Linked DNA regions of Homo sapiens. The protein of the gene in region 4 purifies or fractionates together with the protein of the main gene of each other region. This does not show direct contact. Each region holds a gene or a part of one and is shown on either strand. Other genes may lie near its edges. The genes, in order: EMB, ACACA, STXBP4 and FNDC11.

Region 1 (7,200 bases), on a different chromosome or scaffold from region 4:
GCTTCAGGTTCCACGGAAAAAGTGCCAAGTGCAAAAGAACACGTGTAACTGCTGTGTGACTTTTGCCTTGGGAAAAGTCCCTTAAAGAGGCAATATACAGAAATGCCTTAAGTGGAAAAGCAGGGCAACCTACAGAAGGTATTAGGACAGTAAAAGAAGTTCTTTGTTTAGGCAAGATTTTTTTAACCAAAAAAGTGAGAATGTAAACCTTATTGCTTTCAGTTGGAGGACAGCTGGCAGGAGGCTGATTCAGCTAACATTGGGGTTTAAAGGAAATTGGCAGGAGACTCAGGCAGATGTGGTTTGAATACTTCCCTAAAAGGATTAGGCTGAGTCACAAAAAGAAGTATAAAATGGAGAGGAAGGAATTTGGGGTCTTAATCCAAATTCTGTCACTGACTGTTACTTAGGGTTTCCAAACGCCATATGCCCAGCTCAGTGCTTTGAAAATATGTCTCCACTGTAAACCTCATCTGATAGGGAAAAAAAATGAGGATCAGAAAAGTTGTATAAATATGAGTGATGATGCCAAGATCATAACATGCATTTCTCAAGTTATCAAACTCACCCTTTCTTAATCATTGCTGGAAAATTTCCATATAGCATTCTTTTACAGGTAGAGACAAAAATATCAACATGAAAGAGTAACATCAAATAGTTGCTCAAGAGATTAAAAGACTTTTTTCTCTCTTTGCAGGGCAGTTGAGGCATAAGACTACTGCATCAAAGAAGTGAGTAACATCTTAATTTTCACCTGTTATAATTTTCTGTGAAATAGCAAAATGGTCTCTACTTAAATGTTTTTCACATATTATATTTTAAAATGTGTTGCTAGAAGGGCATATAATTTATTCTATTAACACTTTCAAGTGAAATAAACATGCTATAATTCTACTTAAAGGTATTAAGGTAACATTTTCACATATTTCATTTTGAGGACTTCATTTAATTGAAGTAAGTTGGGAAGAAAAATAAGTAACACTAGAAAACTGCATTGGGTCTTAAGATTTGCTTTTTTAAATCAGGAAATAAATGCAACTACATCTCTGATTAAGAATAAACATTCTCTCTAAAGCCCCCAAAATCCCTTTATTATATGTTAAAATCTTGGAAGGGTCTGAACTTCATTAAGAAAAAAATGTAAGAAGCAACTATTAGAATAAATATTATTCTTTATCTTTCTCATCTCTATACTGATTGCTATCAACATGCAGTACTTAATTTTAACATTCTGATATACAGCATTATAAATGTGCAACCCAATTACAGAAACACTGATAGGAATGAATATTACATATTATTCATAAAATAGAGATTTGGAAATAAGAATATATTTCTTCATGGAAGCAATGTTATATATAACCATGTGATCCCATGCCAAATTGTAAAGGCCACTTAAGCCATGATATGGTTAAAACTTAGCTTTAAAATACCTAATTACTAAGTAAAATACTGATTATACACAACACATGGAGAATTATGGGTTTTAGGAGCAGAGTAGCCCTATCCCCTGTCCATAAATGCAGCAGAAAGAGGAAAAAGGAAATAAGGCATCTCTGAGTCCTGGAAATTATACTCCAGAGAGATTCATCCAAAAAAGAAGAAAAACAAGTAAAAAAAAAAAAAAAAAAAAGCTTGTCAAAAAATTCTAGTTATCAGGGCCAGGCGCGGTGGCTCACGCTTCTAATCTCAGCACTTTGGGAGGCTGAGGCAGGCAGATCATGAGGTCAGGAGTTTGAGACCAGCCTGGCCAGCATGGTGAAACCCCGTCTCTACTAAAAATACAAAAAATTAGCCAGGCATGGTGGCATGCACCTGTGGTCCCAGCAACTTGGGAGGCTGAGACAGGAGAATTGCTTGAACCCGGCAGTCGGAGGTTGCAGTGAGCTGAGATCGCATCACTGCACTCCAGCCTGGATGACAGAGTGAGACTCTGTCTCCAAAAAAAAAACAAAAAACTTATAGTAATCCTGATGGGAACATTTATAAGTCAGACTTTCTAAGTCAGAGACAGATAACACTCCACACAGAGAACTCTTGAACTCTTGATATTTTCTGCACAGTATGGAAGCTATTGGACAAGAAGCCTTTACAGACAAGGTTTTTTTTTTAAGGCCTACTGACAAGTACAATGCACACTTTTACCAGTCTTGTAAAACTATTTTAAAAACCAGATGGTATAGGAATGGAAATAAATAGATCTCTTTAAAAAAATATAATTTTGGCAATAATATACGTTTCAAAGGGCAATGTAAAAATTCTGTTTCAAATCACCTCTACATGGGTCACTAAGATACTTTAACAGTAACTTATGCCAAATAAAAACTTATTAAAAAATAAAACCCCGAAAGTTAATAACTAAGATTTCTATTCTTTCTAAAGACTGTAGATTTGTTAAATGTTTCAATTGTTAGTCTATTCGATAAGAGTTGGGATTTTGTTCAGTGGCTCTCAACTGAGGGTAGTTTTGCCCCGCAGGAGACATTTGGCAATGTCTGAAAGCATTTTGCTTGTCACAATTGGGGGAAGATTACTACATTTATTTAGTAGGTTATATAAGTTTTCATAACAAATTACCACAAATTAGGTGTCATAACAAATGACTACAAATTTGGTGGCAAAAACAACAAAAGTGTATTCTTTCACAGTTCTGGAGGCCAGGAGTCTGAAATCAAGGTGTTGGCAGGACCTTCCTCCTCTGAACTCTTGAGTGAAGAATCCTTCCTTGCCTCTGCCTAGCATCTGGGAGTTGCTGGCAACCTTGGCATTCCTTGGCTGTTGGTAGCTGCATTAGTCCAATATCTGCCTCTGTCTTTACATGATCATCCTCCCTCTGTATATGTCTCTGTCTCTGTTCAAATCTCCTTCTCCTTTTTTTATAAAGACCAGTCATTAGGTTTAGGGCTTACTCTAATTTAGTATGACCTTATTTTAGTTCATTACATCTGCAAAGACCCTACTCCCAAATAAGGTCACTTTCACAGGTACCCAAGATCAGGGATTAAACATATCTTTTTGGGGTGTACAATTCACCCACCGCATATGTAGAGGCCAGGGATACTGCTAAACATTTTAGGATAACAGCTTGCCACGACAAAGAATTATCCAGCGGAAAATGCCAACAGTACCAAAGTTGAAAACCTTGATTTTGAACAGATACATCAGCAATACTGATTCTTCAATGTGATCATTCTTAATAATCTTCCAATGGCCCTGTGGCCCTAAATTCCTGTTCTGCATAGTTTAGGTGCAGACATTTTTAAAGTGTGAACATTTTTTGCCACCCTTCTCTCCCAAGAACACCCTCCTGCCAGGGGCCTATTTTGAGGACTTTTTATGAAGAAAAACCACATGCTGGAGGGACGCTGAAATGCAAACCAGGAAAACAGTTATAGCTATTAGCTATCTCATTGCTTTTGGCTAAGTTACAAAAGCACTTTGGGCTTCAAGATCAATGAAACAAGGTATCTAAATTCCCTTTCAGGTTCTCAGAAGTATATAATTGCAAGGCTATTAAAAGCTTCTGGTTTGGGATTAGGGACACATTAGTACAATAACCTCAATAACTTCAAAAATGCCAGGAAAATGCTATTTTCAAAGAAAAGAATAACAACTCTTTAAAGGTAACATTCATAATTTCTATTCTAACATTATTTGAGATGTTCTATGTTTAAATAGTGGCAATTTTTATTAGGAGTAGAGTTTATTTTTAGCAAAGTGTTGTGAGGTTTGTTCTCCTACATCAGCATATATGTCATAAGTTATTAATTTCTAACGTTCACCTTATATTGTGCCATATGTGAGACCAGCTGTACAAAGTTAATGTGAAAAGATTACACTTTAGAACAAATAGCCTCAACACATGTGATTTGTTTCTGTTGGAGGGCATATACACCTTTGGAAAATGATACCTAAGAACATTAACAGATTTCTCAACTACTGTTTTAGTTTAATACCTCGGTAAACTGAAGCTTTCTCAGGTAAACTAATTATTTTTGTTTCTTTTCAAACAATCTCAAAGTAGCAGAAACATTTCAAGAACAGAACATTTTCCCCTCTGAACCATATGAGTAAGTTTCTGACCTGATGCTTCATGCCCCACTAAAACATTACCGTCTATTTCCTACAAAGGACATTCCCCATACCATCACAATACAACCATTAAAATCAAGAAATGAATATATATGAAGCACCATCTCATCCCCACACCCCATCTAAGTTTCAAAAAAAAGTCCCTATAACGCACTTGGTAGCAAAAGGTTCCAGCTCAGAATCACACATTGCCGTTGGCTATCACTTCTCTCTAATGTGGCTTCACTCTGGACCTGTGACAGTCTCTTCTGACTTTTCCATAACCTTGACACTTTTTAAAATTCCAAGACAGTTCTGCTCTAATATGATTATATTTGAGGTAGGCATCTTTGGCAGGAAGATCATAGAAGTGATGCTGTGCTCTTCTCACCAGATCGTCTCAGATGGCATACCATTTTTTTGGTCTTTGATCATTTGATCAAAGTGCTGTCTGCCAAGCTTCTCCACTATAAAGTTACTCTTTTTCCCTTGATATTAGTAAGCATATTCTGAAGAGTTACTTTGAATCTTTAGTACTTTGTACCCCATCAAAGTTTTCATTGATTTATTTTTTAATTTGCTTCAGTTGGTACTCATGAATCCCCATATTATTAAATGGGTTACAATCCACTAATATTATTATTTATTTTGATGCTCAATTTTGTCCCAGATTTGTCCAGTGGGAACCCCTTCATATTGGCTCCTGTATCTTTTTGACATGACTCATTATCCTTTGAGCACTCCATTGCTTTCTGGCACAAGATGTTCTAGGCTTATCTGCTACTTTCCCACACTAGCCCTGAAATCAGCCATTTCTCCAAGAAGCCTTGGTTACTATTAGTAAAGAATGGTATTTAGAACCCAAGATCTGGGTGCTAAGTATACTCATCACTACTGGAAATCACTGCTAAGAATACATGTGCACATATTCATATACACATACAACTTATAATGTATATCATATACACTTATGTATATGATATGCATGATACGTATTCATCATACATATATTTACACATATACTTGTTTAAAGCTATATACCTATATAGACTTAAGTAAAGAGATAGGGATTTAATGTCATGGATTCCCATGGATACTGCCAACTGCAATCCAACACCACAGGGTTCATTCTACTTTTTCTCTATCTTTATTTCATTCTTCTCTAGTGAAAAACCTAGATCCTATTATCTTTCCTAGATTTAATTATTTGATCCATCACCCTGTATACTGCTAAACTGTCATTGCTACTGCCACACCTGTCCCCACAGAGATGTCTCCTTACCCACTCAGGCTCCAACCTCCATCGCTGGTCTGACCCTCCTACATGCTTTCCTCCACATCTTGTTTGGGATCAAACATCACCCATCTGCTGCTCCTGCACAAAAGCCTTGTTAAACTTGCTCAACTCTGGGATCCTGTGTCAAGCTGCCCGCTGCAGGAGCAACCATTCACTGTGCTCAGGCCCTAATACTCCACACCAGGCTGCCCTCCTGCCTGATGCCATCCTTACCAGGGTCAGCCTCAGATATCCTGATCTGGTCCCCTTGGGCTCCACCCACTTAGTGAGGATGTCTCCTTGCTCTTCCCCACCAAATAACTATAGGACCTATGGAGGGAAAGATGAGAGGTAGGAGGGAAGGGAACGAGGGTGACAGAAGATGAGGAAGAGTCAGTTGCCCTAATTCTTAACAAATGTTTTCAACATATAATTTTTTTGTGATGATAAATTTAGGGTAAAAATGGTCATGCATCAGAAACATCACTATTAAAAGTAGGCTTAGGCTGGGCACCGTAGCTCTCGCCTATAATCCCAACACTTTGGGAGGCTGAGGCAGGAAGATCGCTTGAGCCTAGGAGTTCAAGGCCAGCCTAGGCAACCTAGTGAAACCCCATCTCTACAAAAAATACAAAAATTAGCCGGGTGTGGTGGCATATGCCTGTAGTCCCAGCCATGTGGGAGGCTGAAGTGGGAGGATCTCTTGAGCCCAGAAGGTCAAGGCTGCCCTGAGCCATGAGTGTGCCTCGGTACTCCAGCCTGAGTGACAGAGTGAGACCCTGTCTCAAAAATTAAATGAATGAATGAATGAATAAATAAATAAAAGTAGGCTTATGGTTCATCTGTTCCATTTAAACAGATTTTGGTCTTTGATCATTTGATCAAAGTGCTGTCTGCCAAGCTTCTCCACCATAAAGTTACTCTTTTTCCCTTGATATTAATGAGCACATTCTGAAGAGTTACTCTGAATCTTTAATACTTTGTACCCCATCAAACTTTTCATTGACTCCTTTTTAAATTTACATCAGTGGGTACTCATGAATTCCCATATTATTAAATGAGTTGCAATCCACTAATATCATTATTTATTTGATGCTCAATTTGTCCCAGATTTGTCCAGTGGGAACCCCTTTAAATGTCCTTAAAGGTAAAAACTGCCAGCATGTTCTACTGAGATATGGACTAACAATGTCAGACATATGTGGGTGCTTGAATAGTATTTGCTTCAAAAATATTTATTACTAGAAAGCTGCTGTGTTTGGGGTGAGAGGTTAGTAGGGAAGGGGGTTCATAAAGGGAATGCAAAAGCCACGTCCTCTGGAAGTTAAAAGGATCATTTTAAATGATTCTACTGCAAACATTTTTCAAAAGATAAACATGACCCATTTCTCCAATTTGTGTCATGTAATAGTAATAATAATGATATTTAAATACTCCCACTGATATATCCTTTACAAAGATATATTATATGTCTTATTTAATCAAAAAACCTTAAAACAGTCCCTGTACCTAATTTTATTCCAGGACTCAAACTGTGTCAGCATGTCATTCAGTGCAAATCAGACATTTAGATGCATAGGCTATGCTGTCAGTAGTTCTGAACTTTCATAGACATTTCCAATTAGCTCGGAGAGACAACTGGATATTGTGTTTAAGCACTGTGTTTAGGAAAACAGGCACTGGATGGACCAATGCCAAATTTCCTGCTCTGCTGCTTAACTAAGTATGTGTAATTACTTGGGCAATTAAGCAATTACTTGGGCAATTACATAAGCCAAGCCCCAATTTCTTCATCTTGAGCCCAGAAGGTCAAGGCTGCAGTGAGCCGTGAATGTGCCTCTGCCCTCCAGCCT
Region 2 (7,200 bases), on a different chromosome or scaffold from region 4:
ATCTCGTCATCTGGAGGTGCAGATCTTAGCGGACCAATATGGCAATGCTATCTCTTTGTTTGGTCGTGATTGCTCTGTACAACGCAGGCATCAGAAGATTATTGAAGAAGCACCTGCTACTATTGCTACTCCAGCAGTATTTGAACACATGGAACAGGTACATATATTAAAAGGCTTACTTTATGTTTTCTTACATAGAACATTTTTCATTCAGTTCATGTACCAATCTGAGAACAATGGCATTTTAAGCAACGATTCTGAATAATTAATAAAATTATATCCTTTTCTTAGAGAAAAAAAATTCTACTGTTCTCCCACTAAGAGAATTGTCAAGGAACATGTCAAGCTTCTAAAAGTAGTTAACGCTTTCTAAAAAAAATCAGCGTACCATTTCAGGATACAGGGATAAAGAAGAGAAATGTTTTGGAATTTTTAATCTTATGATTGATTTTTTTAAGAGGCTCATAATCAGGTAGTTTTATTTGCTGGGTTGAGTATCATCAAGTCTTCAGCTGAATTTAATCAACTCTATTATCGTTTTTGGAAAGTCCTCTAAATATCTTCAGAGTTCACACATTCTATCTTTTTGTATAGAAAGTAGTTTCTCAAAGTCATGAGCGATGCCTTCGGAATAACTATAGTTTAGAGGCCTGAACATAGTCTTTTCTGGAGTCCTAACCCAGTCTCTACATCAAAATAGATTCTTCAAAATATATTTCATGTGTGTTAGAGGTCTATTTCCTATGTTGTGTATATATTAGGATGTACTCTTGAACTGCTGTAATAAAGATGCCTTCAAAATACAGTGGCTTGGCCGGGCATGGTGGCTCTTGCCTGTAATCCTAGCACTTTGGGAGGCTAAGGCGGACAGATCACTTGAGCCCTGGAATTCGAGACCGGCCTGGGCAATATGGTGAAACCCTATCTCTACTAAAAATACAAAAATTAGCTGAGTGTCATGGCACACGTCTGTACTCTCAGCTGCTTGGGAGGCTGAGGTGGGAGGATCACTTGACACTGGGAGGTCAAAGCTGCAGTGAGCCTTGATCATGCTACTGCACTCCAACCTGGGTGACAGAGCAAGACCCCATCTCAAAACAAATAAATAAATAAGCAAAATACGGTGGCTTAAACAAGGTGTAAGTTTCTATTTCTCTTTCATCATAGTTCAGAGATGAGCTGTTACCAGAAACAGGTTTATTGCTCACCTGTTGCCTGTTTTTGTAAATAAAATTTTGTTGGAACACAATGATGCTTATTTATTTATGTGTTATTTATGGCTGCTTTATCACTACAATGGTAGAATTGAATAGTTGTGACAGAGGCTATATGGCCCACAAAATTGAAAATAATTACTATCTGGCTCTTTACCAAAAAAGTTTGCCAAACTTTGCTCTTGGACATTGTCATCTTCATGATTAAGCTAACTCACACAAGATTATGTTCACATTGTGGCCTGTGGGAGGAAGAGACAGGGGATGTGGAGGGCAAGCATATGGAAGCATGATCTTGAAGTCACATACATCACTTCTGCTCACATTCCACTGGACAAAATTCAGTTACACAATTATACCTAGCACAAAGGATGTTAGGAATTGTGATCACTAACTGGGTGACCATGTGCTCAGCAAAAATTTCGATTTTATTCCTAAAATGATGAAGTAGAGAAAAGTCACTGGAGGGCATTTCATAATCTGTGCCTCAGTCTGTTCCTCTGGCTACCTATTATCCCTTTATCCTTTTTCCTACTTTCAGAGCACACATAGCCTTTGTCCAAGGAAGACAACCTGAAGCCCCATCCAGTTACTAGTAACTGGATGGGTTATTACTGGAGGTGATTCCGGATCTCTATATGATGTATATTCTTCTCCATTAGATATGTATTGTGGCTTTTCATGGGCCAGTGACTCAAAATACAAGTTATTTACCCAGTATTATATCCCCTGCCTTCACCATACACCCATATACAATGATGGAATAGGAACAGGATAACTCTCATTTGGAAAAATGAAAAATACATAGCAATCGTTGGTCCATAGCAGTTATCAAATCCTCCTTTTTAGGTAGGAATTGCAATGATTCCCTGCTATATAATAGAATACTACCTCAGTTAGACCTGGCTGTCCCTGGTTCTGCTACTGCACACTCCAGAGAAGTGCAATAAGGGAGTAAATCCCTTGTTCATTGTCCTTCAAGACACCTGACATTGTTTTCTGGGAAGTTCTTCCTCATTCAGTTTTCTCTGTGAGTTGGGCTTTGGAGACTATGCCTTCTTTGGCAGAACTTTCACAACCCACTTCCTGCTGGTGCAGGATTGAGGGCACAAATATCCCAATCATCAGTCGCAGGCTTTTGAAGGCCAGGTTTGTGGTTTGTTTAGAAATACAATTCCTTCAAATACTTAACTAAGCTTCTGGGCTATTTGCTTGCAATCAGCTTTGGGTTGGATTAATCATACTCATAGATTTCTTCTAGATATAGAAACTTTTCTTCTATTATTTACTGGCTTCTGTGCTTAGCCTATCTCTCTTGCCTTGATTTAATATTGGCTATCTTGGGGCCAGCTGAAACTAAAGCAGCACGTTTGATCTTTGACACTGAGTTGCTTCAGGGTGATAATCTCATTTTCTGTTTGGGGGGATACAAAAGAAGTTGGCTTTTTCGACACTCTGACCCTTTCAGACCATCTTTTTTAAGGTTTAGTTGGTGTGTGGTCAGTATCCCAAGTTATTGTAGGAAACAGTTTACCAAATGTTGTGTTATCCCAACAAGGAGATTATCACCTTTCCAGCCTGCAGTATCTGTTTCTCTGCTACCCACTACCCTTTTGCTAAGCTAGCATCTCATATTTTAATATTTTTAAACAGCAACATTCTACCTGCACTTAATAATTCCTGTATCGATTAGGATACAGGTTAAACTGCTATAACAAAAAGGTCCAAAAAACACAGCGGACCCCCCCAAAAATAGAAGTTTATTTTTCTCTCCCATCCTAGTCTGAGGTGAGCTTTTCAGGGCTGGTGGAAGTGTTTTATTCCACGAGACCATCTTGGGATTCAGGTTCATTCTTTCTTTTCTTTTTCTTTCTTTTCTTTTCCTTTCTTTTCTTGGTGTTCTTAGTGTGTTCTCATTTGCATGATTGAAGTTGGCTTATACTATCATGACTATGTTCCAATGAATAAGAAGGAAAAAGCCAGGAATAGAGAATGAGACATTTCCTTTTCAAAATATGACTTAGGGCTGGGTGCTGTGGCTCACGCCTATAATCCCAGCACTTTAGGAGGCTGAGGTGGGCGGATCACCTGAGATCAAGAGTTCGAGACCAGCCTGGCCAACATGATGAAAACCCATCTCTACTAAAGATATAAAAATTAGCCTGACATGGTGGCATGTGCCTGTGATCCCAGCTACTCAGGAGGCTGAGGTAGGAGAATCACTTGAATCCGAGAGGCGGAGGTTACAGTGAGCCGAGATTGCGCCACTGTGCTCCATCCTGGGTGGGTGACAAAGCGAGACTCCATCTCCAAAAAAAAAAAAAAAAAAAATATATATATATATATATATATATATATATATATATATATATATATATGACTTGGGAGTTATGCATATCACTTACCAATGCTGGTGTCCTGTTTGTCAAAACTTAGCCACTAACCAGGCCAGGCATGGTGGCTCACGCCTGTAATCCCAGCACTTTGGTAGGCCAAGGCGAGTAGATCACTTGAGGTCAGGAGTTTGAGACCAGGCTGGCCAACATGGGGAAACCCCATCTCTACCAAAAATACAAAAATTAGCCAGGCATGGTGGCGCATGCCTGTAATCTCAGCTACTTGGGGGGCTGAGGCAGGAGAATCACTTGAACCCGGGAGGCAGAGTTTGCAGTGAGCCACGAGATTGTGCCACTGGACTCCAGCCCAGGAGACAGAGTGAGACTCTGTCTCAAAAAAAAAAAAAAAAATCTAGTCTCTAACTAGTTAGCTATGTTTCTAGGAAGAAGAGGAGCATATTGGAAATACTGGAAACTGGACAAGAGTCTGTCCCCATGTTTTTTTGTCTGCATGCATTTATGTCTGGTGGGGTGAGGTTGCTTTTGATGCAAAGTGAAAAATGCTCTTTTCTCCCGATTTTTCATTGAGTTTTTCATCCTTGTCCAGGGATATTGTATAATAATCAGAAATGTGCTCTCATGTGGCTAAAAGCTTTTGATGGCTCTTATACACACTGAACAGTTGAGTCAGTGAGAGGCTGTAGTGGTCTAGCAGTTGGATAAGGTGAGATACTTATGTTTGCTTATCTCTCTTCTTTGAGTGTGCGGTGAAACTTGCCAAAATGGTGGGTTATGTGAGTGCTGGGACTGTGGAATACCTGTACAGCCAGGATGGCAGCTTCTACTTTCTGGAATTGAATCCTCGGCTGCAGGTAGAGCACCCTTGTACAGAGATGGTGGCTGATGTCAATCTCCCTGCAGCACAGCTCCAGGTGAGTCTCCCTGATCTGGGTTGCAGAGCCTAGAAAAGTCAGAGAGGCCTGAAAAATGGGTTTAACCAGTGTGTGATAAGAGAAAAGCACCTCCTATCTGAGTCACACCTAATGGTCATTTCTCTTTCACCCTGTATGTGTTATGCATGTGTGGTTTGGTTTTCCTGATGTAGTACAGACATAGGAATGTTATTTTTTCTAGCCAGACACATCTGATATAATGTGTCATGTTTTAGAAATAAATGTTAATAATGTATGCTTTATTCAATTATTTAGCTATAGTAAACTTCACAACTTTGTATTATAATTATTCCCTACTCATTTTTGTTTTTTTACTAGTGTTCTTTATTGAAATAATTCTGCATCAGAGATTAGTGGTTGAAGTTTTTCCTTACAAGAGTGTGGTAGCACACATATATTTTTATAATTTGTAAAGTGCTTGCTGTCAATATTATTGTCTTCTCTCAGCCCAGGAAACAAATATTATGGAAAGCAGTAATAGTTAATGATAAGGCTTGATATTATTTTTATCTAACATTTGCCCACATCGAGAACACCTTCTGGGTTCCTATTAAAGACTAAAGATTTACTTACTTCCTCCAGTGGTTTGCAGGGATGGAAGAGATAATTATGACACAATTAAGACTTTCTAGCTGTCTGTTTTTGGATGGCTATTAACATTTACTCCTCTGTTGGATATTTTCATTCTTATTACGTGATGGAGAAATGACAACAGGGGAACTGGTGTCTGTTGCATTAGGAATGTGGGGACTTCTTTAGAAGTGGAGAATATTCTAACTACTTATCTGTAGTGATATATTGTATTTCAAGCAACTTAGAGTTGATGATTGTAGAATACAGGTTATAAAAATAGAATGTTTTAGGGAGTGGCTCCAAAAATAAAAATATTTTAGGTTATCTGATAGCCTCTACACTTTAAGGGAAGTAACTGAAAAATTAAAGATGTGTGTTTTATTACCTTTCAGATTGCCATGGGGATTCCTCTATATAGAATCAAGGATATCCGTATGATGTATGGGGTATCTCCCTGGGGTGATTCTCCCATTGATTTTGAAGATTCTGCACACGTTCCTTGTCCAAGGGGCCATGTTATTGCTGCTCGGATCACTAGTGAAAATCCAGATGAGGTAACCCATCACTTAAAAGGTTTATACCTCCTTTTAATGAACTTTAATGTTAAGATAGTATCTGAAAGTATACTTCTGAAATATCTTGGGACTTCCTCTGGAGTGGGAAACATAGAGGTTTCTCAGAGCAGATAAGTAAATGGTTGTTGCTTCATTGGTTACTTAATCCCACTTAAGTCACTGTAGAGTCTTCAGTGGGTCTGTGGCACTGGGTCTTGGCCTTTATCATTTTTGTGTGTCTTCTCTGCTTCTGTGTGTGATTAACAGAGAACTTAAACAATGAATATATAAATCTTCTCTTCCTTCGAAACATAATATGGTCTCTCATTCTTTATTCTCTAACAGGGTTTTAAGCCCAGCTCAGGAACAGTTCAGGAGCTAAATTTCCGCAGCAATAAGAATGTTTGGGGATATTTCAGTGTTGCTGCTGCAGGGGGACTTCATGAATTTGCTGATTCTCAGTTTGGTCACTGCTTTTCTTGGGGAGAAAACAGAGAAGAGGCAATTTCGTGAGTATAATAGCATTTGATTGCATTTTACAAAATAAATTTGTGCTAATCTTAAGTGAAGGTGTGAGCATGGGAATAGGAATCATCTGCTGTCAAAGTAATAATATGAACAACCTTTTTGAAGAAATTTTGAATATCTTTAATTACACTTGCATTCATGTTGTATTAAATTATGCAGTGCTTGGCAGATGTTTTTCTGTTTGTTGTTCTGAGCCTTTTGAAGTATTTTTCCTTTCAAATATTTTTGATAAATGTATAAAATTGATTGCTTTAAAGGTATCTTATTTTTCCACAGGAACAGTATTGTTATTGAGGGGAGGTAGATTCTTGGCCAAGAACTAGGTATCAAATAAATCATAGACTTTTATTTTATTTTTTTCTTGTGAGAAGACTTAAAATCTATTAGCAATTTTCAAGTACACAATCTATTGTTATGAGCCATAGTCACCATGATGTACTCTTATAGTTATTTAAAATAATAAAATTATACTGCTCATATTATGAAAAGGACATAAAGAAACTGTCTACATTGCTAATACAAGAGACCTTAGCATGCTGTATATAACAGCTTATGCAAATATAACTGCTATATCATAAATGTTAGATAATATTCTGTTAATCATAAACAATGAATATTAAATTAACAGCACTTTTGCTTGCCTAAAACATAGGGCTGAAGGAGGTAATTTTAACAGCTTAGATCTTTTGGAATATCTATCTAAAATTGAAACTTGAACTAGTTCTTTTCTGTTTTTTAATGGTTTATTGCCTTGTATCAAACATTTAATACCATTCCCTTTACCTTTGTACTGTACATGGAGTAGGTAATTAATAAGTGTTTATTAGTATTAATTACTAATAAATAGCATTTGTTTATTAGTAATTAATCCTAATATATGGTTGTTTGTATTAATAAACACTTATTGATTAGTTTTATATTTTTATCAATTTCCTGAATTAATTAATTTTAAGAGGCAGAGTCTTGCTCTGTCACCCAGGCTGGAATGCAGTGGTGCCATCATAGCTCACTGAAACCTCGACCTCCTGGGCTCAAGCAATCC
Region 3 (7,200 bases), on a different chromosome or scaffold from region 4:
TTGTCACTTTCCCATACACGGGTGGAGTCTAAGTCCCATCCCCTCAAATTTGCATTGATGAATAGAATATGGTGAAAGCGAGGCTGTGTGACTTCTGAGGCTGGGTCATAAAAGGTGATACAGCTTTTGTCTTGTTCACTGAAACACCTATGCTGGAGCCTTGAGCCACCACATAAGAAATTCAACTACCTTGAGGTCACCATGCTAGGGAGGCCAAATATAGGTAGGTGTTCCAGTTGATAGCCACAGATGAGCTCCCATCTTAGATGTCCAGCCCAGTAGAGTCATCAGATATTGCATCCCCAACAGACATCTGACTGCAACCACGTGAGAGTGCTCTAACATGAGCTGCCTAGCTGAGCGCAATTAACCAAAAGGACCATGAGAGACAATACTAAATTGTTGGTTTAAGCCATTAACTTTTGGGTTGATTTGTTCTGCAGCAATGGTAAATGGAACAGCTTATTTTTAAAAAAGTGCTATGTACATAGTTCAACCACAATTCAAAACTTATTCCCGAGTATGTTTTTTGTGCTAGGAATGTGATAGGTAGGTGCTTCAAATAAATTATATTATTTAATAATCAAACAACTTTTTTGAGTAATATCTTCATTTAGTGAAAAAGGAGATGTAAAATACTTTTTAAAAGCTCTTTTCTGGCCGGGTGTGGTGGCTCATGGCTTTAATCCCAACACTTTGTGAGGCTGAGGTGGGTGGATTGCTTCAGTCCAGGAGTTCAAGACCAGGCCTGGGCAACATGGAGAGACCCTGTCTCTACTAAAAATAAAAAAATGCCAGGCATGGTGATGTACACCTGTGGTCTCAGCTACCTGAGAGGCTGAGACACCTGAACCTAGGGGTGGGAGTGATGGGGGATCGGGGAGGAGGAGGTTGCAATGAGCTGAGATCGAGCCACTGCACTCCAGCCTGGGTAATAAAGCAAGACCATGTCTTAAAAAAAAAAATGCTTTCTTGCATGCAACTACTTCTTGTGTTATGAATGCAATGTGTCATTGATTCTCTTTAAGGATAATAACTTCATTTTATTTCAAGAATATAATATAGCTATCTTCAGAATATTACATTATCTTTATTTAATTAAAGACTTTTTTTCTCTCTCTTCAGAATCTCCCTGTTATGCAGTTCTTCTCCCCCTGGACCATTATTAGGTGATTCTTGGTTGTTGGTTCATATTTTAAATAAGGATCAACAATAGAGGTTCCCACTAAGAATGGTATTGCACCTAGGGGGCATTTTTGGAAATTTGTGAGGCATTATCTATTGTCACAGTGTTTGGGGATATTTTTGGCATTTAGTGAAAGGGTACTAGGAATGCTAAACATCCTATCATTATTGGATACACTGAACGGTCCTGTGCAACAAAGAATTGTTCTGTGTCCTGTATAATGTTTAAATGTCCTACTAGATATTTATGGTGGTAAAAAATCTGTTTGTAATTACTAAAATCTGGAACAAAATTCCATTTTTAGATAAACTCCAAATATTTTTGCATAGTTTTAATATACATTAAATTTCCCAGGCTTGTACCTACTATATAAATTAATGGAAGATTTTACTTTCTTCTCTTCAGAACTTTACCATTGGTCACCATTTTGGACAATCATTTGGACATTACTGATGACAATCTGCTCATGCTATTTAAAATGACAACACAATGTTCCTGTATCAGTCTACATTCATGGTTGCCACATTTGTGGTGATTCTCTGTTTAGGTGCAGGCATCTGATGACTACATTATATATCCTAGTATAGCTGTACTAAAGCATTTATGTTTTGAAATATATATAATTTTATTATAAATCACCTCCCTCTTATTTCTCCTCTACAGTACATTAGCACATTGTTGATTTTTATAAATTATAGGTATAGTTAGGTAAATTATAATTTTCATTGCAGGAAAATAAAGAGTACGTAAGAAGTAGTTAGAAAAAGGGAGTTGAAATTCATAAAGAGACAAAAGTGTCTGGAGAGACACAAAAAGAAAAAGAGGAAAATGTCCAATCATTTAAGTTTTCCCCAAGGATTTCTCTGTCTGTTGGGATGATGGAAGTTACTTAGAGCATTGCCTTACTTCTCTTTCTAGCCCAATGATGACTCTAGGGGTATCTAGTGACAGTTCATGTAGTTCCTTTAGAGAGGTATTTTCCTGGCTCCAGCATAGGAGGATATGCCTGAGCCAGCAGCTCTGAAGACTAGGGAACTGGTTCAGCTATTCCAAGCCATTTAATTAATTACCCTGCTGACTGCCCCAGAGTCTGTTCCCAGTCTTCACTGTCTGTGATCCTGGGGTTTTTTCCATGGTTCTGCTTAACTCATCGTTTCAGCAGTTTTGTCTGTTATATTTGTGTTTTGGGGTCTTTTGCTCAGTTGGACTGTACATTTAATCTTATTCCACCTGTGGGATATTATTATTTAACAACAAGTTCCTCAATGCTGATTCCACTCCTCCAGTTTCCAGTGCTGCTGCGGATTGATTTTTACATTTATTCTGCCATTTCAAAGAAACTTTGGGTGGAAGTGGATGTAAAGGCATATCTTAATTAGAGCTTCATTCTGAGCCTTTACATAAAGGAAATATTCTCCTCCTATGATTGGTACATTAATATTTTTATTGATTAGGTATCAACTTTGCTGTAGGCAAGCCACTATAACGAAATTCAACTGTCTGACTTCAATTTGTTTTGTTAAATAAATTACTTTTAAAAAGTGAAAAAATGCAGAAAACTTACAATCCATATCAAGTAAGGCACGAACAGATTTAACAAGTTCCTTAGATTCAAGCGCCAGCGTTGCTGGGATGCTACGTCCATTCCTTCCCAGTGGTGTGAGGGAAGTCTGAGAAGCTAACACAGCTCTTCTTTCACTATGAAGGCAATAAAATAAAGTTGAACTTACTACACAATAAACAACATCTATCTTTACTAAATCTGAAGTTGTATCAGTTATAGATTTGTACAAAAATATTTATATTTCTGAGGAAATTATTTCATATAACCAAAATTGAAGTAATTCACATAAAACAATATTTCTGTTTTCAATTATTTACGACATAATAAGTAGAAATATTTTAAAATTAGGTTGACTTCATGTATGATAAAGAAGTAATAGAAGGATGACCTGTCTCCTAAATCATTTGTTGGGCTTATTTTGTGAGTGCTTCTCTTTTGCTAACATGATATAATTTTATTTAGTTCTGTATAAATTCAAATTAAGCATATAAACATGAATTTGTTAAAATACATTTATTATTACTTCTAGTAATATTAAATATAAATTCAATATATGTATTTGGCTCCTGAAATTATCTCTTAAATTATTCCATTTTTTGCCTCGAATCAAAAACAGCCTAGAGCATTTGTATCACTTTCAAAAAATGCAAATGTCACCTAAAATGAATGCATTCTGATCTAATTAAAAATTAAATGTTTTCTTCAAAAAATTACACTAAAACTTACTTGAAAAAAAAATTTAAACTGATGACAAAATCATCATTATTTATACTCCATCTTCCTAAGCATAATGATATTAATTCACAAAGGGTAACAAAAGCATCAGTTCTCAAATTCAAATACATAGCCTTTATTCTGTGTTGAATGACCAGGGCCAATATCCATGTAGAGGATATGCTATATTGAAATGACTGCACCAGTTTTTACTAGTGTTTAATTTACTAAGACACCATGAAATGTTGCGTGATGTAGCTATTTAAAGTTGTCTTTTTTTCCATGAAGCAGTTTAAGGCAAGGGCAGGCTCTGGCTTTTAAATAGTCATTTTAACCTTAATTTTTAAAACAAAACTTTTGAATTATTAGTCAAGGTAAAACTAAGACCTTGGAAAGCTGAGGGTGGGTGACACACTTAGCCCATAAAGAAATAAATGTGATTACTGATTATTTTAAGATCCTTACTGAGAGTAATAATCATGAAATTCACAGAGTTTTCTTGTATCATAAGCAGCAAGGAGAGTAAGAAGTTATGTCAGGTTCCTTCATCATAAGAAGTAAAACATTACTTGAGTTTAGAAGTGAATTATAAATATTCTTCTAAATTAAAAAATGCTATGTGGACACCAAAAATATCTTCACTTATTAAGCTGCTGTTTTCACAGTAAAGGGTAGAGTATTTATTTACTTTTTGAGACAGGGCATCACTATGTTATCCAGGCTGGAGGGCAGTGGTATGATCACAGCTCATTGCAGCCTCAATCTCCTAGAGCTCCTGGGCTCCAGCAATCCTCCTGCCTCAACCTCCCAAGTAGCTGGGAATATAGGAATGCACCATCCCATCTGGCTATTTCTTTTTTTTTTTTTTTTTGTAGAGATAGGGTCCCACTGTGTGCCACTATGTTCCTTGTCTCAAACTCCTGGGCTCAAGTGATCCCCCTGCCTCAGCCTCCCAAAATACTGGGATTACAGGTATGCACCATCACACCCAACCTCATTGAGTCTTCCTGTTTCTGCAAGCGTATATTGCTAGAAGTAGAAGATGTATCTAGGACTAGTGGCAGCTATTATGAGAGCAGAAAAAAATTACTTTGGAAATGCATAAACAAGAATCTTTCTTTTGTAAATGTCTTTCATCATGTATCAAAATGACCATAAACTTGTGGTTTGAAATAAATAAATTTGATTAGTATGTTTCCAGCTTCTAGTAAGAAACTTTAAATCCAAAACATATTATGAATAATGAGACAATCGAGGTATATTCTCCAAATATATTTCTTTTATTTATAGCTACTGAAAGATGAAAACGAAAGAAAATGATTGCATGAATATGTTTTCCAAAATTCTGTTTGCCAGAACAACTAACCTGCTGGGTTGAGACACTTTTAGTAGTGAACCTGTGACCAGTAACTTTGATTCATACGCAAGACAATTACAGAATTTTAAGTTAATCTCATCTTTATAGAATTTTTGATAAAGACAGGATAGGTGGTTTCTACCATAATTTTAGATTACAAGGTTACAATGATTGACTAAATACCTCCAGGAATTTCTTTAACAGAGATGGGACACAAAACAATATGTCCTTGCATCTATTTCCATATGATGGCATCCAATGGGAGTTATGTAGCACCTTAGGACTATTTAAGAGATTTTTAGTATTTGAGTCACAATGACCAGATGAAGAATTTAATCACTACCCATATTCTGCAAAAAGCACTTAAATTTTCTTACCTTAAATTTGATAAAGGAGTAGAATTATCAGAAAATACTTCTTGAATAGCCTAGCAACAAACAAGATGGTGAAGGAGATATATCAGTTTGACAGTTTTTAAAAAATATCTTTTCTTCATTAATATTTATAACCTCCTCTGTCCACGGATTAAACTGATGCTTCTATTATGTAGCGGGGGTGCAAACAATTGAACTAACATGCAGTTTTACTCAGAAATATAACAGCTATGAAAACATTTCTTTATAAGGTAAGTAGTTATCAAATAATGTTTATGCATTATCAGGATTTTTGGTAAAGTATTCATTAAAATAGTATATACTTGGAATCCCATCACCTTGTCTCAATTATTTCTCTAAACAATCTATAAAATGTTAGCCAGTCTTTTCATCATGTATGCAGTTCTAAATCTGACCATAAGCCAGCATTGCTGCTTTGAGACTAGAGAATGTTTCACTAGGTACCAAATACAGTAACATTTATCTATATGCCAGTTGCCTATATATTTTTTAAAGATGAATGTAATAGAACAGAAAAACTTACCTCTACAAAATGAAGAAGCTTTTCAGTGGATGCCTCAAAAGTTTTTCGAGCCATTTCTGATTTTCGTAATTGGCAGTCGAGTACCATGATTCTCTTTTTTAAATCCTGAACACTTTCCTGCACAGAGATATCAAAAGGAGCATTTACACATTTCTTCAGTTTTACATTACTGGTCCCTATTTTCAGTTTTTATGAACTAATATTCAATATTACCAAATTATCTTTTTCTCTTACTGTACATATGTTTTGATTTTGGGGGGCATGTAACTAACTGCATATTTAAAAGTTAATTTGCACAGAGATACTGCAAGTTTTATGAGATAAGTTGTATATGAGTTTATTGATTCTTATAGTAAAATACATTTAAATTAGTTTATGGTTTTGTTTTGTTTTGTTTTTGCAATGTGTCTTACCAGATGCTGACAGAAACCTCTACTAATTTAACATAACTAAAAATGCTGGATACACACACACACACACACACACACACACACACACACACACACACGATGTAAGACAAAGCTAGCAAGGAAGTAAAGGAATTCCATGGAGACATGCAACAGCGATGCCAAGTGAGCCCACTGGGGTAAGAGAGCACTGAAGCATTATTTGTTCGGAGGGTATATGCTGATCCCTGGTGGCCTACAGTTTGGGGTTTCAACAGTCACAAATGGAAAACAGAAGAAACTCAATGGGTGAACTGGGAAGAAGTAAACTTCACAGAGGTAAACAGTGTTTTGATGTTGGCTCAGGTGACTTGAGTAAAAAAGTTTCTCCTGAATAATTCCTAACCAAAAGTCCCCATTCACACAGGTTTGGGGCCAGAATTTACATTATCTGTGTGGCCTAAAAAGCCATATGCTGAAATTTTACTTTAAATTGGTCCCAGGCTAGCAGAAGCAAACTCAAAACTCTGGAGAGATATTTCTAAAACTCAGAGCTCAAAGAATTCCCACTTATAATGCATTGATAGAACATGATCTCACAGACACAAACAAAAATCACTAAACATATGAGAAAATAAGCTCTATGAATGAAAGCTAACTGAAGGAAATAAAGTACAGTATCAGATCTATAAAGACAGCAGATATTTAAGTGAGCAGATACAAAATATAAGGCAATTATGTTTAATATGTTTTTAAAAATAAGAGGGAATTGAAAGTATAATACACAAGAAACTATTGAAATAGATCCAGATAACATAAAAAATACATCTCAAAAATAAAAATGTAACATAACTAAATTAGAAACTTTATTTATAGATTTGACATCCAGTTAGATACAATTATAAAGAGAATGGGTGAACTTGACAACAGAGGTAAAGAAACTTCTCATAATGGAACAGAAAGACAAAAATTGAAATACAAATGGGGAGAAAAGGTAAAGAGAAAACAGCCAGAAGAAGCTATAGCACACATCCAATCTGAATTACACAAGAACAAATACAAAGAATGAAAGAGA
Region 4 (7,823 bases):
CCGGGAAGGCCCTTGAGGAACAAAAGGTGGGGCGGGGCATGGAGGGGCACGGCTGAGCTGCTCACAGCCAGGGATCCCCGGTGGTGCTGCTGCCTCCTCGGGCGGGCGTGCTGATGAGCACTCGAGGCTGGGCAGGGGATGGTGGGAGGCATCACGGCCTAGGAGTGTCATTCCCTGAGGGAGCCCCACAAGCCAGGGAGGTGGGTAAGGAAGGCCGGAGCCCGGTCACGGTGATGGGGGTGGTGAGGAGGGGCGGGGGCTAGGACCGCAGAGGCCCCGTGGAGCAGCTTTTGTCGTCGTCGTTGGACCCGTAGGTGTCAGGGGCTGGTACTTCTTGCTCCAGGCTCAGCTGTCTTGGGAGGTCCGGCCTGTGGCTCCCCCTGGGAAAGAGCAGGAGCAGAAGGCCTGGGGCTTGGCATGTTTTGAGCCAGGAAAAACACTGGTGGCTGCTGCCTTTAAAACATAAATAGGTTTGCTTCTTTAATTCCATATGTGCATTTACACTCTTCTTTATTAGTGGATAAATATTAGAAAATCATCTCTCAGACAGAGTGGCTGAGGGCGGGCCCCTCCAGGGGCTCCGGCTTGGTGTGCAGGGTGAGGCTGTCCCTCCAGGGCTCGTACACCAGCGTGGAGGTCTCGGCCCTCTTGATGGTGAACTTATAGGATCGGTTGGGCAGCAGGTTTCGGACGTCGAAGGTGCAGGCAGCCACGGGGATGACGCCACACTGGGCGCACTCCTGCTGTGTCCGCGGGTCCAGCAGCCTGAAGCGCAACTCATACTGCTCCGATGTGGCTGGCTGGATGGTGACGAACCAGCGCAGCCGGGCCCAGTCCTGGTGAGCCGCCGACGCCTTTCGGTCAAACACGACAGGCATCTTGGTGCTCAGCATGAGCCAGATGTGCGGGATCTTGGTGGCACTGACATCAGACACCAGGCGGTGCTTGACGTGTAGCCGCCCCGGCACCATCATGGTCAGGAAGCTGTCCATGACGGCCGACACGTCCGCCAGCCGCCGCTCCACCAGCGCCCAGTCGGCCAGGAAGGGCCGTGGGTCTGGCGACCGGAGCAGGGCATCCAGCTCAGCACGGCCATGGTCGAGCTGTTCCAACAGGTCCCCGAGCAGCAGGAGCTGGATCTTGGTCTGAGCTGTGCCCACCTTCTTCATGCGCTGGAACTTCCAGGGGTCGATGAGCTGGAACAAGGCGCTAGGCAGCACCAGCGGGTTCTGGTCGCCCAGGGCCAGGTGCTTGGGCAGGACCTCGATGTAGTAGGAGCACTTACGCAGCAGCTGCATGCGGGCGTGGTGGCGCTTGAGCAGGTGCGGACTCAGGTCCGAGGTCAGGAACTCACGCAGGGCATTGCGGCGCTCGGTGTAGGTCTTCCACGCCTCTGGTTCCAGCAGCTGCTGGTCATCTGCCTCCTCCTGGTCCAGGAAGGACTGGGGATTGCCCAGCTTCATCTTGTCCAGGCCCAGGCCTGCCACATGGGTGCTCATTATCCGGGAGCTGGGGGGAGGGCTGGGTGTCAGCTGCCAGGCAGGCTGGCCTCCCCTGGGCTGTGGCATGTTCGGGGGATGGATTCAGCCCACTGACCCCATGCTGGACCTCTGTCCTTCTTCGGGGGCACAACTCGATGGGAAGAGGCTGCCTGGAGGGCTGGATGGGCAGCCTACAGATCTGGACACAGTTTATACTGAGGGGCAAAAACCTCTACTGACAACCAGTGGCCTGTGGGACAGGACAGGGAAGAACTAGGACTGCGGACTTCTGGCCAGAACCGCCTGACCTGTGGCCTTGCAAGGGCCCCAGTTCCTAACCCTGCTGCTGAAAGGGGTTGCTGGCACCCCTCGGGGCCGTGGAGAGGGGACGGCGTGGTCCTAAGCAGCACAGGATCCCCCTCGGGGACATTCGCGGGCCATCCTCCCGCTCCGGTTCTCCCTGGGGACGCTCCACGCCTCACCGCAGTTGTAGGGCACAGAGACAGGCCTCACCAAAGACGAGGCCAGCTGGCTGGTCAGCATGGGAGGAGGGCGCCCAGGCCTGGGCCCGGAGGAGCAGCCCTCCTCCCACGCTGTGGGCCCTCGCTGTGGACCCGGGATCCTGTCCCTGGTGAGCTCATGGACTCCACAAGTGACACTCCATTTCCCAGATGGAGCCTGAGGCTAAGAAGCTTGGTTCTTGTTCTCATCCAGGGCTTGAGCCCAGTGCTGAGCCGAGTCTGACCCTCTGTCCGTGGGTGCACCGGCTGAGTGCAGCTGTGGCCCCAGGCTCTGCCGCAGCTCCCTGGAGAGCAAGCCGCACCCCTGGTTGCTGCCCCGGCTCCCAGCAACCCTGGAGATCTCAGGTTGTCACAGCCACTTGGGCCTTGGACGACCCACAAATGAGAGCTAAGCAGTTGCTGAGTTCCCCAGGGCCACACAGGTACGTGGTGAAGTCATATCTGCCCGGGAAGGGTTGCCCTTTTGGGCGTGAGGCAGATATGACTTCACGAGCGCACTCCTCGGGAATCCCTCGAGAACAGGCCCCTGGGGGCAGCAGGGAGTGTGTCTGGGGTGAGGTGCCAGCTGAGAGCAGGACCCCAGGACCCCAGGCCTAAGCCCTGCTCTTGCTGGAGGCTGGGGCGGATTTCACCGCTGGAGGGAAACCGTGCCTCTGTGACGTGTGAGGGATGTTTTCTAGTCTCCAGCAGCTGCCCAGGTGGAACACCCAGAGAGGCTGGTCGTGAACCCGGAAAGGTGGTTCTGAGCCCCTCGCTGCTTCCTACACGCCCCGGTCCCAGGCCCGCTTCCCTGAGACCACCAGGTGCCCGCACTCTACCCCCTCCACCACACTCCCCTTGGCTCCCCTGGCCCGGGCCCACCTCCCCGGCCGCTCTGCCTGCCCCTTACCTTCTCGAGACCCCCAGCCCTCCTCTCCCGGCCCCCGCCGCCGCCCCAGGACCGCGCCCACTTGCCCTGCCTCTGAAGCGGAGCCGCGCGCGGACTTCCCAGAGCCCAGCCTCCCTCCGCACTCCGCGGGTTGCCCTGGGGACCAGCGGCCTTTGTGACGCTGCGGCCCGGGGGCGGGGCGGGGGTGGGGACCCGGGACCCCGAGCCGAGTAATCTTCCATCCGCTTCGCTTCCTGGAGAGCCCCAGACTTCTGGGGGCCCGCGTCCCCGACTGAGGGGCCACGGCGGGTGGCTGGTCCAAGAGCCAGGCTCCAAGGGGGGTTCCCGTCCCGGAGCCCTTCCGCGGGCGCACCACTCCCCACGCACCCCCGGCTTCGGGCGGGGCGCAGGAGCCTCGGGTGACTGGGAGGGAGTTCCTGCTCAACCCCCCAGTCCGAGCGCACTCCTCGGGAATCCCTCGGAGGAATTTGGGAGAGAGGCAGTGGCCGGTGACCAGGCGGATGGACCACCCAGCGCCTGGACAGAGGAGAGGGGCGGCTTCCCCCGCCGCGGGCTCTGCCCAGCAAGGCCCCGCCCATTACAGATGCCACCCATTACAGGCTCCTCCCACCGCAGGCTCCCCCCACCGCAGGCTCCTCAACCACAGGCTCCTCCCACCATGGGCTCCCCCCTCCCCCGCAACGGCCCCTCCCATCATAGGCTCCTCCCACCGCGGGCTCCCCCCACCACGGCCCCTCCCACCACAGGCTCCTCCCAGAGCAGGCTCCTCCCACCGCGGGCTCCCCTACTACGGCCCCTCCCACCACAGGGTCTTCCCACCACAGGCTCCTCCCAGCGCAGGCTCCTCCCACCGCGGGCTCCCCCCACCACGGCCCCTCCCATCATAGGCTCCTCCCACTACAGGCTCCTCCCACTACAGGCTCCTCCCACCATGGGCTCCTTCCACCTGGGGCTGCCCAAGCTCAGGCACCGACCTGACTCTGGATAAATGGGGTCTCCATAGCTCCAGGGAGCCCCGCAGGGGAGCTCTGAGGCCATCTGGTCCCGTCTGTATCTGTTCAGTTGGGCTCAGGGCCTCTGGGATCCCCCCGTTCCCCCACAGCACACCCCAGCTAGCTGGGGGTCTCCTGGGGTCACAATCTTAGACACCCCAAGGTGCCCCTCCTTCACCTTCAGGAAGATGCTGGAGGAAGACACCCTTTCCATCCTCCTCATCTCCACCCCCACGGAGGTCAGTGCTGGGGCCTCTTCCAGGATGGGCGTCTTTGAGCCCCTACCAGGCTGTTCTGTAACTTGAGCCTCCCCCCTCCTCCCGGTGACCCCACCCTGGAAGAGCTTTCCCTTGGTGCATGGAGGCCCCAGGGGTTAGGCCTGGCAGGAAGTGGGTGGATGTGGGTGGTTTTTTTTTTGAGATAGCGTCTTGCTCTGTCACCCATGCGGCAGTCTTCACCCCCGGGGCTCAAGTGATCCTCCCACCTGGGTCTTTCTGATCCTTCCGGATTACAGGTGTGAGCCTTGCACCCAGTCCTGTTGGGTGCTGTTTCTGCCCTGCCCTCCCTGCCTGGGCTGGAACTCAATAAATGCCAGCTATTGTTATTGTTATTTAGGGCTCCAGGGGACAAAGCCGGGGTTGTTTGGAGAAGGGGGTGCTGTCTGACGCGGAGGGTTGGGAAGCAGTAGGAGTTAGACCCCTTACCCCCGGCCCTGCAGCCCACTGACGGAGAAGCGGGGTGGGGGCAGAGCAGCCTCCCCTTCTCTTTTGGGGCCAGGCAGGTCCTGGATGTCTCCCCTCTCCTGGGCTCCACCCTACCCCCTTTCTTTCAATTTCTGATTTCTAATCTAATTTTTTAAAGTTAAACTTTTGGCCAGGCTCGGTGGCGCAGGCCCATAACCTCAGCACTTTGAGAGGCCAAGGTGAGAGGATCCCTTGAGGCCAGAAGTTTGAGACCAGCCTCGGCAACACAGGGAGACCCCTGTCTCTACAAATAATTTGAAAAATTAGCTGGGTGTGGTGGTGTGCACCTGTGGTCTCAGCTACTTGGAAAGCTGAGGCCGGAGGATCACCTGAGCCTGGGAGGATGAGGCTGCAGTGAGCCAAGATGGTGCCACTGCACTCCAGCCTGGGTGACAGAGGGAGACCCTGTGTCTCTAAAAAGAATAATAATGGCTGGGCGCAGTGGCTCACGCCTATAATCCCAGCACTTCGGGAGGCTGAGGCAAGCAGATCACCTGAGGTCAGGAGTTCAAGACCAGCCTGGCCAACATAGTAAGACCCAGTCTCTACTAACAATACAAAAATTAGCTGGACGTGATCGAGACCATGGTGAAACCCCGTCTCTACTAAAAATACAAAACACTAGCTGGGAGTGGTGGCAGGCGCCTGTAGTCCCAGCTACTCGGGAGACTGAGGCAGGAGAATGGCGTGAACCTGGAAGGTGGAGCTTGCAGTGAGCCGAGATCACGCCACTGCACTCCAGCCTGGGCGACAGAGCGAGACTCTGTCTCAAAAAAAAAAAAAAAATTAGCTGGACGTGGTGGTGGGCGCCTGTAGTCCCAGCTACTCAGGAGGCTGAGGCAGGAGAATCGCTTGAACCCAGGAGGTGGAGGTTGCAGTGAGCCGAGATTGTGCCACTGCACTCCAGCCTGGGTGCAATAAGACAGAGGCCTGTCTCGAAAATAATAATAATAATAATAAAGTTAAACTTTTACTTTTAAGATAAGTATAGATTCATCTGCAGTTGTAAGAAGTAACACAGAGGTCCCGTTACCCTCTATCCAGCATCCCCAGTGGTAGCATCTTGCAGGACTGCAGTGCAGAATCACGCCAGGACCTTGACGTCGATACAGACGCAAGGCAGTGCCACCCCCACGGGACCCTGACATGTTCTTTACAGCCACGCTGCTCCCTCCCACCTCTCCCTAGCCCTGCAACCACTCATCTCTCCGGCTCTGTCTGGTCATTTCAAGAATGTCCTATCAGTGCAGGCTTTCAGTATGCAGCCTTGGGACTGGCTTCTTGCGCTCAGCATAGTCCCCTCTGTGCAGGGTCAACAGTCACTCCTGTTCACTGCTGGGCACCAGGGGCCAGTTTGTGCTCAGTCTTGCTCAACCCTGTTTGTGGCCACCAGGGCACGGGCAGTGAACACTTTGGATCTGTTGTCCCTGGTGGGGACAAGCTCTCTTCCCTGGGCCCTGAGGATGGTGAAGCCTGGGGGTAGTGGGGCCAGTCTTGGGGGAGAGAATGCACGCTGACCACTGAGACCCTCAGAGCTGTGCCCTCCAGACACATAAACCCGGATGGGGGGTGGCCTGATGTGGCAGAGCTCCTGCCACAAGCCTCCATCTGAACACCAGGAAGGGCCCTGCACCCCATCCCCCTGGTCTGTGTCCTCACTGCCATTGTAAGCTCAGTGCTCTTACAGATGGGGAAACTGAGGCACAGGGAGGTTCAGCACTGTATGCCCAAGGTCATGTGGACAGTGAGTCTGACAGCAGGATTCCAGCCCTGGTCATTTTTATTTTTTTGAGATGGAGTCTTGCTCAGCCGCCCAGGCTGGAGTACGGTGGCGCGACGATCTCAGCTCACTGCAACCACTGTCTCCCAGATTCAAGTGATTCTCCCGTCTCAGCCTCCCGAGTAGCTGGGATTACAGGTGCCCGCCATCATGCCTGACTAACTTTTGTATTTTAGTGGAGACGGGGTTTCACCATGTTGCCCAGGCTGGTCTTGAACTCCTGACCTCAGGTGATGCACCCGCCTTGGCCTCCCAAAGTGCTGGGATTACTGGTGTCAGCCACCGTGCCTAGCCTTTTCTTTTTTTAAAAAAATAGAGATGGGGGTCTCACTATGTTGCCCAGGCTGGTCTTGAACCCTTGGGCTTAAGCGATCCTCCTGCTTGGCCTCCCCAGATGCTGGTATTACAGGAGTGAGCCGCCTCACCCGGCCAAGCCCCAGACTCCTGACCCCGTCCAGACTGATCCTGTACCCAGGCCCCTTTCCTCACTCCCCTCTGTGCCACCCACCCGGTTAGGGCTGAGGGAGGAGGTGAGGTCATGTGGGGGGGGCACAGCAGGCAGGGAAGGGGCTGCTGACACCGACACCTGGCAGGGGCCCTATGCTGGGCTGTGTTGCGCCTGGTGGGTGAGGTGAGGAAGGGGTGGACGGGCGGGCACAACTTGGAGGGCAGCGGGACAGGGCAGCTGGGCATGCGGGGCCGGGGATTCTGAGGACCACCGGGGAGGAGCTGGATAAAGCCGGCCTCGGCTGCCTGCCGACCACACTCACCCTGGCATGTGTGCGGTGCAAGGGCAGCAGGTGCAAGGAGGGGGAAGATGGGGCAGACGTGGGGAGCTGATCTGTGGGCAGGTGGGGCGGTGGGGGTGAGACACGCCGGGGCAGAGGCCCAATGGGGCCCTAACCCTGATGGCCAGGCCTGCCTCTGGTTCCAGCTGGGCATGGAATGTGCTGAGTCCTGTGCCATGATCCCGTGGCTCTAAGGGGCAGGGAGTGTCTGGGAGGAATCTGCATTCAGTGCCCTGAACATCTGACCCTGGTGTGGTGGGCACAGGAGCTTTCCATGGCCTGAGGAGGCCTCCCTGGGGCTCTGCGGCCTTGGCGTTCTAGCGGGGAAGAGTCACGTCCTAGGGAGGATTTGGGAGAGCTGGTAGCCACACCTGTAGTCCCAGCACTTTGGGAGGCAGGAGGATCGCTTGAGGCCAAGAGTTCAAAACCGGCCTGGGCAACATAGTGAGAGCCCATCTCTACAAATAATAAAAAATTTATCTGGGCATGGTGGCGCACACCTGTAGTCCGGCAGGAGGACGGCTTGAGCCCAGGAGATCGAGGCTGCCACTGCACTCCAGCCTGGGCGACAGAGTGAGACCCTGTTTCCAAAAAAAAAGTAAAGAAAAGAAATGGTGGGCAAAAGCCTC

The links.
Region 1: the proteins of FNDC11 (region 4) and EMB purify together in Homo sapiens (affinity purification with mass spectrometry; 3 studies listed by BioGRID and IntAct, with this or other methods). This does not show direct contact.
Region 2: the proteins of FNDC11 (region 4) and ACACA purify together in Homo sapiens (affinity purification with mass spectrometry; 2 studies listed by BioGRID and IntAct, with this or other methods). This does not show direct contact.
Region 3: the proteins of FNDC11 (region 4) and STXBP4 purify together in Homo sapiens (affinity purification with mass spectrometry; 3 studies listed by BioGRID and IntAct, with this or other methods). This does not show direct contact.

Annotation. Positions count from the first base shown.
Region 1 is NC_000005.10:50,431,138-50,438,337, forward strand, and holds part of EMB (embigin precursor), read right to left. Parts: intron 1-7,200. UniProt on the Homo sapiens protein: Plays a role in the outgrowth of motoneurons and in the formation of neuromuscular junctions.
Region 2 is NC_000017.11:37,256,642-37,263,841, reverse strand, and holds part of ACACA (acetyl-CoA carboxylase 1), read left to right. Parts: coding exon 1-157; intron 158-4,311; coding exon 4,312-4,482; intron 4,483-5,468; coding exon 5,469-5,630; intron 5,631-5,975; coding exon 5,976-6,139; intron 6,140-7,200. UniProt on the Homo sapiens protein: Cytosolic enzyme that catalyzes the carboxylation of acetyl-CoA to malonyl-CoA, the first and rate-limiting step of de novo fatty acid biosynthesis.
Region 3 is NC_000017.11:55,076,734-55,083,933, reverse strand, and holds part of STXBP4 (syntaxin-binding protein 4), read right to left. Parts: intron 5,857-7,200; coding exon 5,740-5,856; intron 5,249-5,739; coding exon 5,199-5,248; intron 2,885-5,198; coding exon 2,751-2,884; intron 2,745-2,750; exon of another isoform or gene 1-2,744. UniProt on the Homo sapiens protein: Plays a role in the translocation of transport vesicles from the cytoplasm to the plasma membrane. Inhibits the translocation of SLC2A4 from intracellular vesicles to the plasma membrane by STX4A binding and preventing the interaction between STX4A and VAMP2.
Region 4 is NC_000020.11:63,549,340-63,557,162, reverse strand, and holds FNDC11 (fibronectin type III domain-containing protein 11), read right to left. Parts: upstream 3,005-7,823; 5' UTR 2,957-3,004; exon of another isoform or gene 2,892-2,956; intron 2,821-2,891; exon of another isoform or gene 1,995-2,820; intron 1,989-1,994; exon of another isoform or gene 1,602-1,988; coding exon of another isoform or gene 1,597-1,601; exon of another isoform or gene 1,569-1,596; coding exon of another isoform or gene 1,500-1,568; coding exon 543-1,499; 3' UTR 468-542; downstream 1-467.